Linked DNA regions of Homo sapiens: region 2 is linked to region 1. Evidence: fine-mapped QTL for protein levels in blood plasma. Region 1 holds a variant in brackets. A gene starts in the other region. All regions are shown on one strand. Distances are from middle to middle.

Region 1 (8,000 bases):
TTACCTGACTAAAGCACCTGTGTCAAGTCAGTTGCCTGCTAAATGGACAAGGATTTGTAAAAGCTGCCTGGTTGCTCTCTCAAGCAGCATCCATTATGTCAGCATCAGCAAAGCTGGGTTAGATTGACTACCAGCCAGGCCAGGAGCATGTCTTTAGAAAACTTAAAAAAGAATTAGACATTAGTGGTGTATTTATTGAAAAAGAGTCCTAACTCTAAACGGAATATCAATATCTGCCTCCCTACTTTAGACATTCTGCTGTTTTGCAGAGTTTCTTTACATTGCAGGATTTTTAGCAAGGAGAGCTTGAGGATGAGGGGAAGTTGCGATTCTACATCAACAGAGTGAATCATTTGTGGTGAATATGCAGAAGCAGCCCCTGCCTGCTTTCTAGCATCGGCTGTGGTCAGATGTTGGGTAAAGGTATAGAAGTCTCAGTACTTTTGCCAAAGGAAATGGTCTCTTCCATCAGAGAGTAACATACAAGACCTAAGTGATTCCCTTACTTCACAAAAGAGCAAACCGAGATCAGAGAGGTCAGATTACTACACCAAGGTCCTAAGAGGTGCTAAGCGGAGGAGCCAGAACTAGCAACCAGGTCTCCAACTACAGTTCCTTGTGTAGTTTGAGGATCTCCTGGCTGCAAGTAATAGTCTTCACTAGGAGTGATTTAAACTACGTGGACATTTATTATCTCCTGTATTGCGTAGACATGTGGATTCAGGTCTGCATATTTGTGGTTCCAGCTTGCAGTGTGGGGCTGCTTATGGCTGTACAGACTGTGGATTGCACAACTCCAGGGAGTACCGATTCATTCATATAGTTATCTGAATGGTGCTCCCGGACATTGGACTGTGTACAACTTGCACATATGTTTGGAGTGGCCCTGGTTGGGGGATTGAGTTAGTGGCTCAGTGATGTCAAGGCTCCAGGGTAGTTTTTCTGTGGCTGTCTTTTTCTCTGATGTGTAGCTGCTCTAACTTTTTGTTATCACGTGTCAATGTCTAAGCAGAAAGGAAGAAGTGAGTAATGAAGTATCCTGTTCACATGATTCTTTTGGCAGCAGCAAAATCTCTTCCAAAAGCATCTAATAGACTTCCCTAATATCTTATTGCCCAGGGATGGGTCACATGGCTATGTCTAGATGAAACATTGGCAGAGACAATGAGCTCACTATTATAGGCTTAGGAAAGCAGGGATCTGCTAGCAAGGCACATGGGGTAATGGGTGTTGGGAATGTGAGTGGTATGATTTGCCATAGATTGTTACACTGAAGGTAGAGTCATGTATTTTAATGTACATGATGGTATTGAAGGGAAAATGCATGTCAAAAAGCATTTGTAAAATAAAACACATCATAGATCATTTGAAATGGGCAACTCAAGTTTGCTTGCTCTATATTGATTGTGTTTAATGTTTCCCTCTGCATAAGGTAATGACTCTTCCAGCTTTTGCCTGACTTTATGAGAAACACAGCTTTCACCTGGGGGAAGTGTAATCTCTTACTACCACTGCTTTAGCAGCTTTCCAGATTTCCATTAACAGGTTCCAAAACAATTATTTTGTTTTCTGGGTAAGCAGTTTAGAGCATACGCATTTTCCTCCGTGTTTCCAGGGTGGTTGGAGGAGTAAAAAGTAATTCCTTCTCCAAACACAAAGTAGGGAAATAACCTCCATATACTTAATGTAACAACCAAACTGAATTCTAAAATGCACAGCCTGTGAATCAGGAAGTGTTGTAGATGGGAGGATACAGAGATATAAATGATACTATTCTTTCCTCTAGGGACTCACAATTTACTGCAGCTATTTCTACATGAAAGTTATGTTAATTAAATATGTGAAGTTTTACAGTCACCCAAAGGACACTGAAAGTCATTGTTCCACACATAAAAAGGCAGAGGAAGCCAGAATCACAAGCCAAATGGATGAAGTCAAGGAGAGAATGAATCAGTCCTTTCAGAGTATGGGGTACTTGCTAGAGAGTGAGGGAAGCAATGAGTAACGAGGAGTGCGATTCAGACAGCTTATCTGTACCATTCCATACTTCCCAGAGCCATGGTGGTACTATGAATACTAGCTGTAGATAAAGTGTTATTGCCAAAGAGTAGTCCTAGGGATGCCCTCAAAAGAGTTTCTATGTGATTTTCAGAAAAATGCGTAAATCTTTGCAATATCCTTTACCAGGAGGAAAAGTGGACTTTCATTGATAAGGTTTCCTTTCAAAAGCATTGGCATGATTTCCTATAGTAAAGGCCCTTCTCTCTTTCTGTTTGTCCCCTATAAGCTGACAGGAAAAAAAAGTAGAATGAAACTCCTAAAAATATGGTGACGTAGAGCTGCAAAGAATCTTTGGAATGGGCGTTCTAAATGAGGCAATGTCTATGTTATTTCTTCCTGTTTTTTAAAAGTCCTTGAACTGCTGGGACCATAAGTAGGAGAGGCTGAGTATGAGGAATTGCCCTGCAGAAGAGATCTGCCTGAAACCCTAGACCCCTCTTTTTTCTTGGCTTATAGGGTATGTGGGTGGAGGTCCAGGACCTTGAGTCTGAGTGATGACCAGTGATAATGGCACATGTATATGACAGATGGTAGCTACTCTTACCATGATACTCTTTGGGCCACGCATTATCTAGGGCTTGATGACCATCTGTAACTCAGTGTGATAGAGTGGAAACTTCTGTGAACACTAAGGTCTAAGCTATCAGTTCATTGTTGAGCAATGTTATATAACTGACCACGTCTAAGACTGAGCTCAGTCAATCCCATTACTGGGTATATACCCAAAAGATTATAAATCATTATACTATATAGACATTATACTATATAGACTTTATACTACATGCACATGTATGTTTATTGCAGCACTGTTCACAATAGCAAAGACTTGGAACCAACCCAAATGCCCATCAATGATAGATTGAATAAAGAAAATGTGACACATAGACACCATGGAATACTATGCAGCCATAAAAAAGAATGAGTTCATGTCCTTTGCAGGGACATGGATGAAGCTGGAAACTATCATTCTCAGCAAACTAACACAGGAACAGAAAACCAAACACTGCATGTTCTCACTCATAAGTGGGAGGTGAACAATGAGAACACGTGGACACAGGAAGGGGAACATCACACACTGGGGCCTGTCGCAGGGTTGGGGGCTAGGGGAGGGATAGCATTAGGAGAAATACCTAATGTAGATGATGTGTTGATGGGTGCAGCAAACCACCACGGCACTTGTATACTTATGTAACAAACCTGCACGTTCTGCACATGTATCCCAGAACTTAAAGTATAAAAAAAAAAAAAAATAGACTGAGCTGAGTAACCTTTCTGGGGTCAACTTCAGATATTTGGCTTGTTGTTCAGGAGTCTTTTGTAGAGGACAGGGGCTCTGGTGGTATGCTGGTGGCTTGTTGGCCTTTGCCCCTGCATGTTCCATGTAGGTGGAGTCAGGTAGCCCAGTGTCAGACTGGGAACTCCAGGCCAGGATGGATGCAGGAGCCCCTGAGGCACCTGGGCTCAGGGCGAGGCAGCCCCTTTTCTTGACAGAGGATTGGCCTACAGCCTTCATTGAATGGAGAGGATTAGACTAGATACCATCTATAGATATTCCCCCTCTACCCCTATGCAGGTTATCTCATGGGAACAGCTGTTATTTCAATCTTGTCTTAGCCATGCCTTCCCCAGTGCCCAGCCTTGCTTAACATTCCTAGTGGAGATGGAGCCAGCTTTAGGAGGTGTAGCCTCTGATCTGAATTAAACTGACCCTGAGGTTATGGAAAGGGCAAGCAAGCTGGGAGTGTGAGAATCGCCCCCTCCTATAGCATATTCATGGGATGATTTGGGGAGGATAATGGCAATAATACCCTGAGAGGAAAGGGTTTTGAATATTCAGCAGCTCCCATCTCAGCCATACTACATGGCCCCACAGCAGAGAGCCTTTGATAAAGTTGGCTTTCTAGAATAGGGATTGAAATCAAACTTGCTTGTAAAAGCATCTAGAGTTATGTTACTTTCTTATTTAGAAACAGAGAGCCCAGGACCATGAGGCTTCCGCCTGCTGGACAGCAAGGACTTCCAGTAGCTTCTCAGCTGTTTTCCCAGTCACTTTCAGAAGCAAGGCTGCTATAGCTAATTGATGTATGCAAGATGTAATTACAGCCATTGATAGGGAAAATATCAGCAATATGATGCCCTTGGAAGCTCAGAAAAAAGTCAAAAGGCTGTACCATGACTCTCACAATAGCCAGATCTGAATATAAAATCTAGTCTCTTCTGGTGATGGAGAAAAGGAAGTGTCATCCATACAAGATGAATTTACACTCTGAACCCCAGGAGGTCCTGCACGTAGGAAGTGCCTACAATCCAAGTACCATGCTCTTTACTGCCTCTCCTGCTTCCAGCACTGTCCCTGGGGTCATCCAAACCAGTACAGTAACCCAGCTGGCCTCTCTTCTGAAAACATCTCCAACTTCAACAATACTTTGAGATACCATATTGCTGGTATTTCAAAAACTGCTGCCAGCAGGGAGGAGGCCAATGGCGTGTCCATAGATCATGTTCAGCCTCCAAGTGGTCTCATAATCAACAAAGAATCTGAAGTTTACAAGATGCTTCAGGAGAAACAGGAGTTGAATGAACCCCTGAAACAGTCTACCTCTTTCCTGATTTTGCAGGAAATCCTGGAGTCTGAGATAAAAGGGGATCTCAACAACCCTCAGGATTCAGAAGTGTTACTCAGCTCAGTCTATTACTCAGTGGCTGCATCAATTGGAAATGCTCAGAAGGTGCCCATGTGTGACAAATGTGGTCCTGGCATTGTAGGCATGTTTGTAAAGCTGCGGGGACCATCATCCCCTCCCTGAATGTTACGTGTGCACTGATTGTGACACTCACCCGAAAGAGAAGGGCTTTTTTTTTTTTT[TTTTC/T]CATCAAATCTACTGTGAAGAGCATGCCCAGGAGCAAGTCACACCACTTGAGGGTACGATGTGGTCATCATGTTCCCCAAGTGATCCAGCAGACCTGCACTGACCACCGTTCTCCAGCCAGCCTCTGCTGCAGCTAGTTCTCTAAATGTTCTGGCCTTGTCTCTTGAAAGTTCTGTACTTATTCCCCCACCCCACAACCCGCTTACCTTGGTTTTATCCCTGCTCATTGAACCTTGAGTCCCTTGTCTTGGTTAACTGACTCACACTGACTGTGTGGTGCCCGCCCACTTTTACAATGAATGGCAAACTGTTTTTGTTCAGTGTCCCCTTGCCGGCAACACTGTGTACCTTCCTCCCCTCAGTTCTTCTCTGCTGCAAATGGACATCAGCCACATTTGAACCAAATCAAATATAATATGTCTGACATTGATTTCATTTTTGCTCCATCTATAGACTCCCAGAAAAAAGAAATAAAAAAAATGCAAAGAAAATTTAAATGAACAAACAGACCCTTCTGGAACCTACTGTGACATGAGATGTGTCCACAAGGCGAGGTTTCAGGCACACACTGAAGGAGCATCTGCTGGACAGCCCTCCCCGCCCCCAAGTCCTTACCAACCTGTGCCACTGGTACTTATTTTTCTTGACTGATTAGGTAGACACTGATTTAGGCATGACTCTTTAATATTTGAGAGCATAGAGCTTCCAATTAAAATATGTTAAAAGTATTTTTTAAATTTTAAACCTTACAATCAGATGAACTGTACTACTCAAAAAAGGTAAATTTAATGAATATAGGAGTGTGTACATCATCTCCTGTTTACCTGACAAAGCCAATGCTTGGCTCTTTTAAACAGTTTCCGAATTCTCACATTCTCCATGTTTCTGGGTTCTACAGTGTTTGTACAGTTTTGCTACTCATTGATTTCCTAAAATCCTTAAGGTCTTGAGTTCATCTGGTCTGCTGATTTCACGGGTCTTAGGGAAACAGTGTTCTCTTTAGACTTTCCATGCCATGAGGGCCCTGGAAGGATAGCCTCAACAACTTTCCCTTCTGTGGTTTTGTTCCCTAGCGGGCAAGGACACAGTCTATTTTGTCATTTCTCCAGGCCTGCCTGGGTGAGGGTAAGAGCTGGGAGAGAGATGGACCAGCAACACGAAGTTCCCCTTTGTGTTCTACTTTAAAGCTGTTTGCCAGGAACACCGCGTGAACTTTTAGTTTGTATTGGTTAAGCTCCAAGGACCAGTCCATGTTTGAGAAATTGAAGTGAGCATGGGCAGGGTACAGAAAACTGCACTTTTCTCACCAGATTCCAAACTGTCCATCTCCACACTTGTGCAGCAGAGAGCCAGAGGTAGAATCTTCGAGGAGTGGGTAATGCTGGCAAAGAATGTAGACCTGCATAATGTAAAACACAAATGCAGAGTCCTATATGGAGGTGTGTTTCACAGTCTCAAGTTCTGGATCCACATGCTAGTTCCACTTTGGAGTATGACTTTAAAATGTTACATAATAGATTTCTGAACCTCTTTCTTCATTTGTATACTGGGAATATCAGGCTTACTTATCTCAATAGGTGGGTATGAGAATCAAATGAGAGAACATGTATGGGCTGATAATAGTTGCTGACAATGATATGCTCTTCCTATAGAATGTTACTCATTGAATCTTGTATCTTTTTAATACAGCTCTAGACTTGTAAGTCGCAGTTGGTTCTTTTTCTACTTGCGCAACAAGTGGAATTTGGCACTGGGTTTCTGACAGTATGCATGGATTCTTGGAATCAGTTTTGTAAAAGATGGCTCAATCTCTCACTTGTCCATCTGTCCAACAGCATACCCTGTAAAAAGTGTGTGGTGGTTGGTAATGGAGGAGTTTTGAAGAATAAGACATTAGGAGAAAAAATCGACTCCTATGATGTAATAATAAGGTAAATATATTTTCTATTTGCTACCCTAGAATTGTTTCAAAAGAATATGGTTTCTTGCCTTAATACAGCTGTGTTTTGACAGGAAGGGGAGATGTTTCCATTTGGTTTTTTTTTTATTGCACAACCTTCTCTCTTGGTTGTTGGCTAGAGTTAGACCTAGATTTCAGGTTACTCATTTAGCAAGTATTTGTTAAGTCTCCTTAGTGTGCTAGCATGCTTCTAGCCACAGGAGAGATAGCAATGGATAAGAACAATGTTTGTGCTCCCTGTGGAGGGAAGAAAATGAGTAATTAAATATATAAAAATAATAAATGCCATACATAATTTAAAAAGGATATAACAGAGAATCTTTGAATGGCTCCTTTGTAATGATTGACCACTTTGAGAAAGAGACATCTAAGCAGGGCCCAAGTGACCACACAGCAACAGCCATATGAAGATTATGGTAGAGCAGTCCAGGCAGAAAGGATGTTTGCTGCAGGGCCTCAGGAGGAGATGATCCTGAGTTTGAGAGGAGTAGCAAAGAAACCCAGTGAAGCTGGAAAGTAGCAGGCAGGGGGAGAGTGGTGGAATTGGAAGCTGAAGCGGTGAGCAAAGATCAGGCTGCATAGGACTTTGTAAGCTAGGATTAGAAACTTGGATTTTAAGTGCAACAGGAAGCTTTTTAAGGGTTTTAAGCAAGAGAACAAAGCAGTCTGGTTATGTCTTAAATATTCTGGCTGTGGCATGGACAATGGAATGTGGGGGACAAGGGTGGAAATGAAGAGGCCAATTAGGTTGCTGTATTCGGGTATAATATGATGGTGGCTTGGGACAGGATTGTTGTAGGAGAGGAAGAGATATGTGGACTGACTGAAGATGTGTTTTAGACATAGAGTTATCGGGATTTGTTGCCGTATTAGATGTGAAGAGTAATGAGAATAAAGAAATCAAGGATGCCTCCTACTCTGTTTTCAGCTTAGGAGATTGGCTGGAGAGTGGTATCATTTATTAAGTTGGGGAAGACTGGTATAGGAGCAGGTTTAGAGGAAAACCATGATATGAACATGTTAGATTTGAGATGCTTGTTAGATTTGCAGTGGGTTTGTCGAGTAGGCAGTTGGATAAACAGGTTAAAATCTTGATGGTGTGTGGCCTA
Region 2 (8,528 bases), 99 Mb before region 1:
GAATTCAGGCCAGAGTGGGGTTTCTTTGTCATCCTCAACATGAGCCTTTTACTACTGTGGGTTAGTCAAAAGGAAAAGGAGAAGTGAATCTAGATGATCTTTAAGTAGATGAGCTGAGAGTTGCCAACAGCATTTTTCCTCATGTCTCTTTGGTGAGAACCTAGTCCTAGAACCAAACTAAGTCAAAAGAGTGACTAGAAAATTTAGTCTTTAGGTTAGCGGCCCTGTGTCCAGAAGGAGAAAAAGAACTAGGCCGGGCGCCATTGGCTCTCGCCTGTAACCCCAGCACTCTGGGAGGCCGAAGCGGGCGGATCACGAGGTCAGGAGACCATGCTGGCTCACATGGTGAAAATCAGTCTCTACCAAAAATACAAGAAGAAATGAGCCGGGCGGGTTGGCGGGCGCCTGTGGTCCCAGCTACTCCCGGGGCCGAGGCGGGAGAATGGCGGGAACCCGGGGGGCGGAGCTTGCGGGGAGCCGAGGTCGCGCCACCGCACTCCAGCCTGGGCGACAGGGCCAGACTCCGTCACATACAACAACAACAAAAACAACAAAAAACAGATTAGTGGGCAGAGGAAGTGGAGAACAACCTGTGGCTGCCACAAGCTCTTGTTGGTCTTTCCTTTTTCTCTAACATGTTTCTGTTACATTGAGTGGAAAACATACTTTCAAAAACAACTGGAAAAAAAAAGAAAAGGAGAAACTTCATTTTGGCTATGTGTCTCTGTAAAAAGATCAGCCTTTATGCTCCTGGTATTACTCGCTATCCCACTATTCGACATTTGTCTTGTTTGCTGCAACAGAATAATAATAAATAAAATTATCTTCAAAGATGGCAGTGACTTTTCATCCTGTAAAATGATACAAGATTAAAAACTTGGAGATTTTTTTCAATATATTCTCGGCCATTAACCAGTTGTACAACTCTGATAAAATTTCTGAACCTTACTCTTTTCAGATATAAAAAGAAGCTATGGAAGATTATGTTTTCTGAGGTCCCTTCCAGACTGAAAAGATTTCGTACCATGTTGGAAATAGAGAGGTTTAGAAGAAATTCTCATCCTCCAGACATATGAGGACTTTCTCCAACAAATAGGAATTCATCCTATAACTCAGTTCACAGGCCTTTGAGATAAGACTTGGGGGCATAGGACTTTGGAGCAAACCATCAATAGGAGAGAAAACTAGTCATTGTAGGCATTGCTGATTGGAGGGTGGGAAATCCTTCTGACCTGCACAAGTAATCAATGGATGCCTTAAAGCATGAGATTTGAAAACACTTAACATTATCTTGGCTACATAATTATAATGTTATTAATGGCCACAAAGTTTCTTAGCCTTTTTAAAAAATCCAGTGAAAGTATTTGATTTCATGACCTCCCAGGGCTGAATTATACATATTAATGATCCATGGCATGCAATACAAGATTTTACCTTTTTAGTTGTTCCAGAATTATTGCCCTTTGATTTTTAATACATATCCTTTTGTTCTTGTATTAAAGGACAAGTTAAAGGAGTAGTGACTCTGTCAGGATAACTCTGCAGAATTAATATGGTCTTTTTAGCTTTATTAATATCAAAGCTGAAGTGGCTGCTTTGTACTTTCAAGGTTGCTTTTGAAGGATCTATTCCTCAGTGGAACATCCTGCTTCCTGCTTTTTATTTTTTATTTTTATTTTTTATTACAGCAGTTGGCCGGAAAGCCCCTGTTGATCTGTGACTATTTGGAACTGCTAGACTGAAATGCCATTTTCAAAACTCCAGCTCTTCTGCTAAACAATTTTTCTAGGAATGATGCCACATCACTAGCTACTTGTATTTGCCAAAAGGCAATACTACTTCAATGGCCCTAGCTCTGGGAATGATACCAAATGATGGTTCAGGAGGGAGGGAGGGAGGCAGTAAATCAGCAGGAAAAGCTGAAAAATGCCCCAGCTTTTAATAGCTTTTATCTTTTTCCAGATGACTGGCCTCTCTCTCACCTTCTGCTTCTATTCATGATAGGGCCCTTTTCTCCCCTATTTTTGTGGCTTGATATTAGTATTTTCATTCGAAACGGCCGTCCTCAATTATCAGAGAGAAAATTCACACCTTTCAAAGCTACGGCAATCACATTTCCATGTGACTCATAAGTATATCTTCTTTCTCTAGCACCTAGGTGCAACTGTGGGATGCCTGATAGATTAGGATTGTATGTTGAATGGGAAATGGGTCTGAACCAAGTGTCAGACAGTAGAATGGGAGCCAGGGGAGGGTTCCAAAGCAGCAGCAGAAGGTATCTCTAGCAAGCATCCGCTCTGGCTGGGGACTGTCTTCTGGTTCCAGCCTTACTGGAAGCTCAGGCTGTAGAGTTGTGAATTCCTGGGGCCAGGCAAGCCTAGATGTGTTGCCTGCTTTTGATAATGTATCAAAAATATGAACTCATCCTTGGAAGCGACAGCTATGAGGTGTTTCTTGGATGTAGAAATTTAGGTCATCTGTCTTCCTTTTGCATTGCCTTAAAAAGTACGATTTCCTTTCTTGGTTTATCATTTGCTGGCCTTCTTTCTTTCCATCCTTCCTCCCTTCCTTCCTTCCTTCCTCCCTTTTTTCCTTCCCTAGACTTTCCCTATCTCCCTCTTTTCTTTCGTAAAATTTGGTTGCCTGGGATAACGTGTATTGCATACAAGCTGACTTCCTTACTGTCCCTAGTAAGCTATGTGTGGCTATTATTTCTTCATTTATATGCAATGCCAGAAGCTTAGAAGAATGTTATCTCCCTTTCAGTTAAAAACTCATAGTTAAGAACTGGCCATCTTCTTGTTTTGGGTATTGTGGCTTGGTACTGTCTAATATATTTGGAGGGTATTTGATTTTTTAAAAAGCTACTGGCCATGCCTATTGAGTTTCCTACTGAGCCCAGCACCCAGACCAGTGATTGATTAAATAGTAGCTGCTCAATAAATATTTGTTTTGTAAATAATGATTCTATTGTCAAGAAACAAATCACCAAGAAAGAAGGAGCTATATATTTAAGAGTACTCTGTTCATCTGGCCAAAATGGAGTTCCGAGTCCCTTGCTCAGCTGATGTTTGTTCACCCAGAAGATGGTAAACTCCTGAGACCAACTTCGCTTTGTTGTTCTCTTGTGGTTCCTTGACCTTGGAAATGTTTTTCTACAGGCAGAGTATTTCCCCCTGTTGGAATTTTATTTAATATTCTATCTTTGTTTCTACTTTAGAAAACATGCCACGTGAATAATGATGCCTCAGGCAAAAGAAATCACTCCAGCAGTACAATTTAAACTTAGGACAAATCCTGCCCTCACTTGCATTCACAATTTGCCAAGGCAGTTGGTAAGAACTGTGCCCACACACAAATTGACAGAATCGAGGCCCCAAGGTTAGCGATGATTAAAATTTAAAAGTCCATTCATTCATTTTCAAAATATTTTATTCGATTGCTTCTGAGGCAGAATCATGAGTTGCCTTCGCTTTTGCTGCTCCCGGTGGTGGCATCCAACTCTGAGGATAGCTCATCCAACTCTGAGGGTAGCTCTGAGGGGAGCTAAATATCCTCATTGTTCAATGAGCTAGATGAAAACAAAACGAGGCTGTAAGGTCAATCTCACAGCCTTAGTGGAGTAAAAATTAGAAGTCAATAATTCTCTTACCAACAAAGAGGACTTGCATTCAACAGGATTTTCAAAAGTGGTATCCTGTAAAAATTTTGGAAAATACCACCATAATGGAAAAAAAATAAAGTGGCATATAAATCAAATGTAGTGCTAAAAATTATAATTTTTCCATATGAATTTTGGAATCCTAAAATATTTTTATGTGTTTGTGGATTCATAAGGCATCAGAACTGGCTTTTTGCACTGAATATGAGTACAGAAGGCTTTCCTCTCCAATAGTGAATTAATAAAGGATAAGTAGGAAAAACGTTACGAAACGATGTGGTAACATTATAGACTCTGTATTAGGGCAAAAATTGTGAGATAGTAGAAGATCTGTAAATTTAAGCATGCACAATTTGACAGCGGATGGTCGTAGCATATTTTGTAAATTCAATAGCAAGCCCCACCACGCCCTTAAATGAAGGAAAGCAAGAAGACAATTTTTAATACGTACATGGCACCACACCCCTCTAAGACGCAGCAATGGGAGAAAAGCAGATTGGCGACCTGTGTGTGCAACATGAACCGAGTGAAACCATCGGGGAGGGGGTGGGGGGCGTTTCTTTTAAATGTCGCTTTTGCAGATAAACGAGCAGGGATCCTACCTCTTTTGACCGGAGATGTTGAAAAGCACGACCAAAGTTTTTGGCTTGGTCTCTTGCTTTCCACAACGAGATAAAGTCTGAAGCCTGTAACTCTCCCTGTCCCGCGGGAGCGTGCAAAGGGAGGGAAGATAAGCGGCGTGGGTGAGGGGTGGCGGCGCAGAACCCAGGAAGGGAGCAGAGGCGAGAGCCAGCCTCCGGCAGGAGGGCGTAGACCCCGGTGCCAGCCAGAACGGCTCCAGCCTTCCCGCGGCCAGAGAGCCAGCGGCGGGAGGGGACGGGCGGGACCTCCGCGGACAGCCCCGGGTGCGGACCAGCGGGCAGCGGCCGGCGAGACCCTCCCTGGATCCGCCCAGAGCTTACCGGACCCTGCGCGCCCCCGTCCCGGCTCCCGGCCGGCTCGGGGGAGAAGGCGCCCGAGGGGAGGCGCCGGACAGATCGCGTTTCGGAGGCGGCGCAGGTGTGTCAGGGGTGGGGGTCCGCTGGCATCTCTCGTGCCGGCGCTGGGGGGGTCTCCCGTGGAGGAAGGGCTGAAGGTGCTCCGGGAGGGGTCCACTCGTTATGGAAAGGAAGCGGGGCGCGGTCAGGGTCCCTCGTCCGCAGTGGGGGTGGTCCGGGCCCCTCAGCCTGCACCCGGGAGGAGACGCCCCCTTTTCACGCCCCGCCCCCGGTGGCCGAGGCCGGATTCGGACAGCTCGGGGTCAGTCGACGGAGCACACCGGGCGCCCGAATCCGCCGGGTCCCACTCACGCCCGCCGGCCGCCGGTAGGTTGGCCCTCCCGCTTCCAGCCTCCGCCACCCCATCCCTCGCTGCTCTCTGAGGAGGATTCCAGACCCCCCCGTAGATCTCCGCCCTCTCTCGGGTGGGGCTCCGAGGTCTAGCTGGTCTGGGGGTCAGTCCCGGCCTCTGTCTCCCACCGCGCCCCTCGCTCCCCTGGACACCGCCTGGTGTGTGGGGCTCAGACCCCCCCAGTCCACTGCCCCTGTGTGGCTCCTCCTCTCAGGAGAGGATTCTAGATCCCAGCCCGGGGGGGGTTCCGAAAATGCCGCCAGCCTGGAGCGGGGAATCCATGGACCGTGGGGTTGTGGGGTTGGGGAGCACGAAAACCCAGAGAGGGGCTAGAGCTCCACCTCCCCAGACCGCCGAGGGGCGAGAGGGCGCGCCGGGGGCCGTGGTTGCCATGGCTCCTGGTAGCGGAGCCCGGGGGGCTGGAGATGCCGGTCGCGGATGGTCCCTTCTTCCTCTTTGTGCCTCTCTCTTTCTCTCGCTTTTTTTTTTTTTTTGGAGTGTGAGTGTGCGTGGGGAGGCAGCACGGAGAAAGTGATTAATTTGGGGAGCAGGGATTGGAGCCGGGAGGCTGGGGAAAGCCAGCCCCTCCGTTCCCACTCTCCGGGCTCGCTGCGAGCCACAGTGTCTCAGCCAGGGGCAGGGCCGGGGAACTCCTGCGAAAAACCACGGGCCGGAGGAGCAGCAGCCGCGCGGGCCCAGGTACCCCCGCCCCAGACGGCCAGCAGGGTGGAGCGCAGGGTGGGCGTTTGGGCTGCTGGGCGGGAAGGCGGGCGGGGAAGGGGTGGGAGGCCGGCGGCGGAGGGCAGGTGTGCGTCGGCAGGGCTGGGTGGCCCGGCAGAGAGGGCGCCCCAGGTTCAGCCCCTCCTCGAAGGGCGCCGGCGTCCAGTCCCGCTCGTGGGAGCCGCGGAGCAGCCCCAGGGCCGGCGAGCGGCTGCCCTGCCAGGCGCGTGCGCGAGGGCGCGCTCCCGCGGGAACGCGCCGTGCGCGGGGAGATTTGCGCGTGCGCGTGGCGATGGTAACTGGTGGGCCCCCCGGGCTCGCTCTAGGCGGAGGCTCCCGGGACGCCCACGTGGCTTCGAATTCCAGCTCCACCATCACTGTGATGCGTCACTCTGGACTAGGCATTTAACTACGTGCCTCAGTTTCCCTTTCTCAATAATACGGAGATTATCGATACCCTCTATACTGGGTTGTTGCAAGACTGGAATGAGATGATACAAGTAATTTAACACCATAGATTTTTAAATTTAACACCATATGCATATTTGATGCATAATAAGCACTCAAAAGTTATTGTCGTTGATGCCATTACTGTTAGTTAATCCTCAGTTTAATTACATATGGTGCATTTTCATTTCTCTGCATTTTCATTGAAGTAAAAATTCTGCGTTTTCTAATTTTGGAGAATAATCTTAATTAAAATATGAATATTTGTACTGCACAGTCCAACTCCTACGAAGCTCTGCCTTGCAGCAGATTGGAAGAGAGAAACTGATCAACTGCCGATGAAGTTGGCTTTTCAGTATATTGATGGAGAGAGAAGCTTAGGAAGCTCTTTGGGGAAACTTTTGGTGACAAGAAAATAAAAAGTTTATCCCAGAGTTTTTCTTTTGTAAATCTTTGTGTTTTCTCTTTCACCTGCAGATGTTGCAGTTGGGTTTGTCTTAATTTCAGTCTCTTTGTGAGGGACCACCATTTGGCTTTCATAATTTAACGTGGTTACAGAGCCTATGTATACCCTGGCTTTCCATTTTATGGCCTTAAGTGCTGCAGTGGATTTACCTTTAGTAATGGCAGAACGTAGTGTATAATCATTCCTTGCAAGCTCCTGAATATTGTGAGCAAATCAATGGAGACAAATAGTTATTACTGGATGGGTGTGAGTACTGGCTATGGCAACTCATTAAAATCTCTTTCAGGGTATGTTTGTACCCACTTCACTGCAGCACAAGACTATGATGATGAATATATGTTTCCCAGATTGTTATCTGTTGCATGTAGACTTACGGATCCTTTTCTTCAAAGAAACGGCTATAGATATTTATTGATTCCTCATGGTTATATAGGTCCTCCAACCTATCTGCTGATAAGTACACTGTACACTTCGTGGGCCTAGCTGTAGGTCTAAGAGGAGTTGATTTTGCACATACTATACTTATTGCATTTAAGTTAATTCATCTCATTACATGAATTGGTTTTAAATAAATTTTTAAAATCATTTGATTATTAAAATATAGGCATTTCTTGGTGAACTTGAGGCAAGTAAAGCCTGACAGATGTCACCATCACAAAGATCCTTAGTGACCTTTACAAAATAGAGCTCACCCAGAAAAACATTTGCTAGATAGAAACCTGATTTTATAGTTGCTTCTGAAATCTTTGAAGATAGGAGGTTATTTGCCCCAAAATTGCTTTGTTGAAATAATTTAGCCTGATTCGCTTTTATAGAAAAATAAGGGTAACGATCAAGACTGATTTAAGATTCTTGTATTTTTAACCGATAAAAGAAAATTAAGTAATAGTTGGGGAACTACTGGTGTCAGATTTGAAGGAATGATTGTCAGGAAATACTGAGAGTATTACTTCAGGTAGCAGTGTTTGGCTTTGCAAGACAACCCTCTCATCCTCACTGTGAATATGTCATCTTTAAAAGGTACCTTGAGGAATTAGTGTGACAGCTTCTCTGAAATTCATGTGATCATTTACATATTGTTTCCCAGGAGCTTTGGCATTAAATGTTTCATTTATTGGAAATTATTTTGCCCTTTAATTTATGACAGCCAACAGTGCAATAGAGTCTAATGTATTTTAGAAACAATAAAATTAGCTTTTCACCATTTTCTATTTTCCCTAAAAATCTAGCAGCAATGCACTTGGAATGCTTAAGTTAGTCCAGAGACAAATGGTAAGAGTAGGAAAACATGACAGATTGGGAGGTGTTGAGTTCTGAATTTGGGGACCTAATTGAAATGCAAAGGTATAATCAAGAGAATGAACTTGTCTCTGTACTGAGGTTGTTTTCAGTGATGTACTATATTATCTGATTCAGTCAACGTTCCTTGTTATTTTTTCAAACCAAGATTGAGAATACTATATTTTCAATTATGAACATTTTGATTACAGTTTCATTCTGACTAATTCAGTCGGAAGAGAATGCAATTATTATGGTCATTTACATACAATATGCTAAGTTAACACAGCTAATGAGTGAAAGCATAATATTCTTTCTGTTTGTTCCTGGAAAAATATTGTGCTAAGCATTCTTTCAAAGAAAGATTACATTATTCGCTATCATTTTATGTCTATCTACAAGTAGAATTGGCATTGAGCCTTTTCTCTGCTATTAAAGTGAAATCTCTTATATTTTGGTGATCACATGCCTTTCCTCTCACCCCTTGGGGGAGACTGGAAACAATTCTCAATTTAATTAGATATGCTGCTTTCTTTTTTCTGTACATCTTTATCTGAGGAAAGATTG

Alleles and levels. Positions count from the first base shown, and alleles are read on the strand shown. Strength reflects both the effect of a copy and how common the allele is.
For the plasma level of the protein whose gene starts at base 4,420 in region 2, T is the low allele of the variant in region 1 and TTTTC is the other (weak association).

The links. A credible set is the group of variants that fine-mapping cannot tell apart. PIP is the posterior inclusion probability: the model's chance that the variant is causal. The UK Biobank Pharma Proteomics Project read protein levels with antibody pairs (Olink). The fine-mapping took linkage between variants from a reference panel, not from the people measured, so its PIPs are less certain.
Region 2: it holds the start of CHL1, and the variant in region 1 is the best candidate, but not a certain one, in a credible set for the plasma level of the CHL1 protein (UK Biobank, PIP 0.89).

The regions. Positions count from the first base shown.
Region 1 is chr3:98,778,179-98,786,178 of GRCh38, forward strand. ST3GAL6 (ST3 beta-galactoside alpha-2,3-sialyltransferase 6) reads left to right here. Exons shown (of 10, transcript NM_001323368.2): 6 at 6,767-6,862. It also overlaps the pseudogene PDLIM1P4. Among named protein-coding and RNA genes, the nearest start is that of ST3GAL6, 19 kb to the left of the region's middle. The variant TTTTC/T (reference allele first, on the strand shown) is at 4,928.
Region 2 is chr3:192,344-200,871 of GRCh38, forward strand. It overlaps CHL1 (cell adhesion molecule L1 like), which reads left to right and starts at 4,420. Exons shown (of 28, transcript NM_006614.4): 1 at 4,420-4,720. CHL1-AS2 (CHL1 antisense RNA 2) reads right to left here and starts at 4,998. Exons shown (of 4, transcript NR_144487.1): 1 at 4,624-4,998; 2 at 4,113-4,165; 3 at 3,653-3,697; 4 at 3,415-3,571.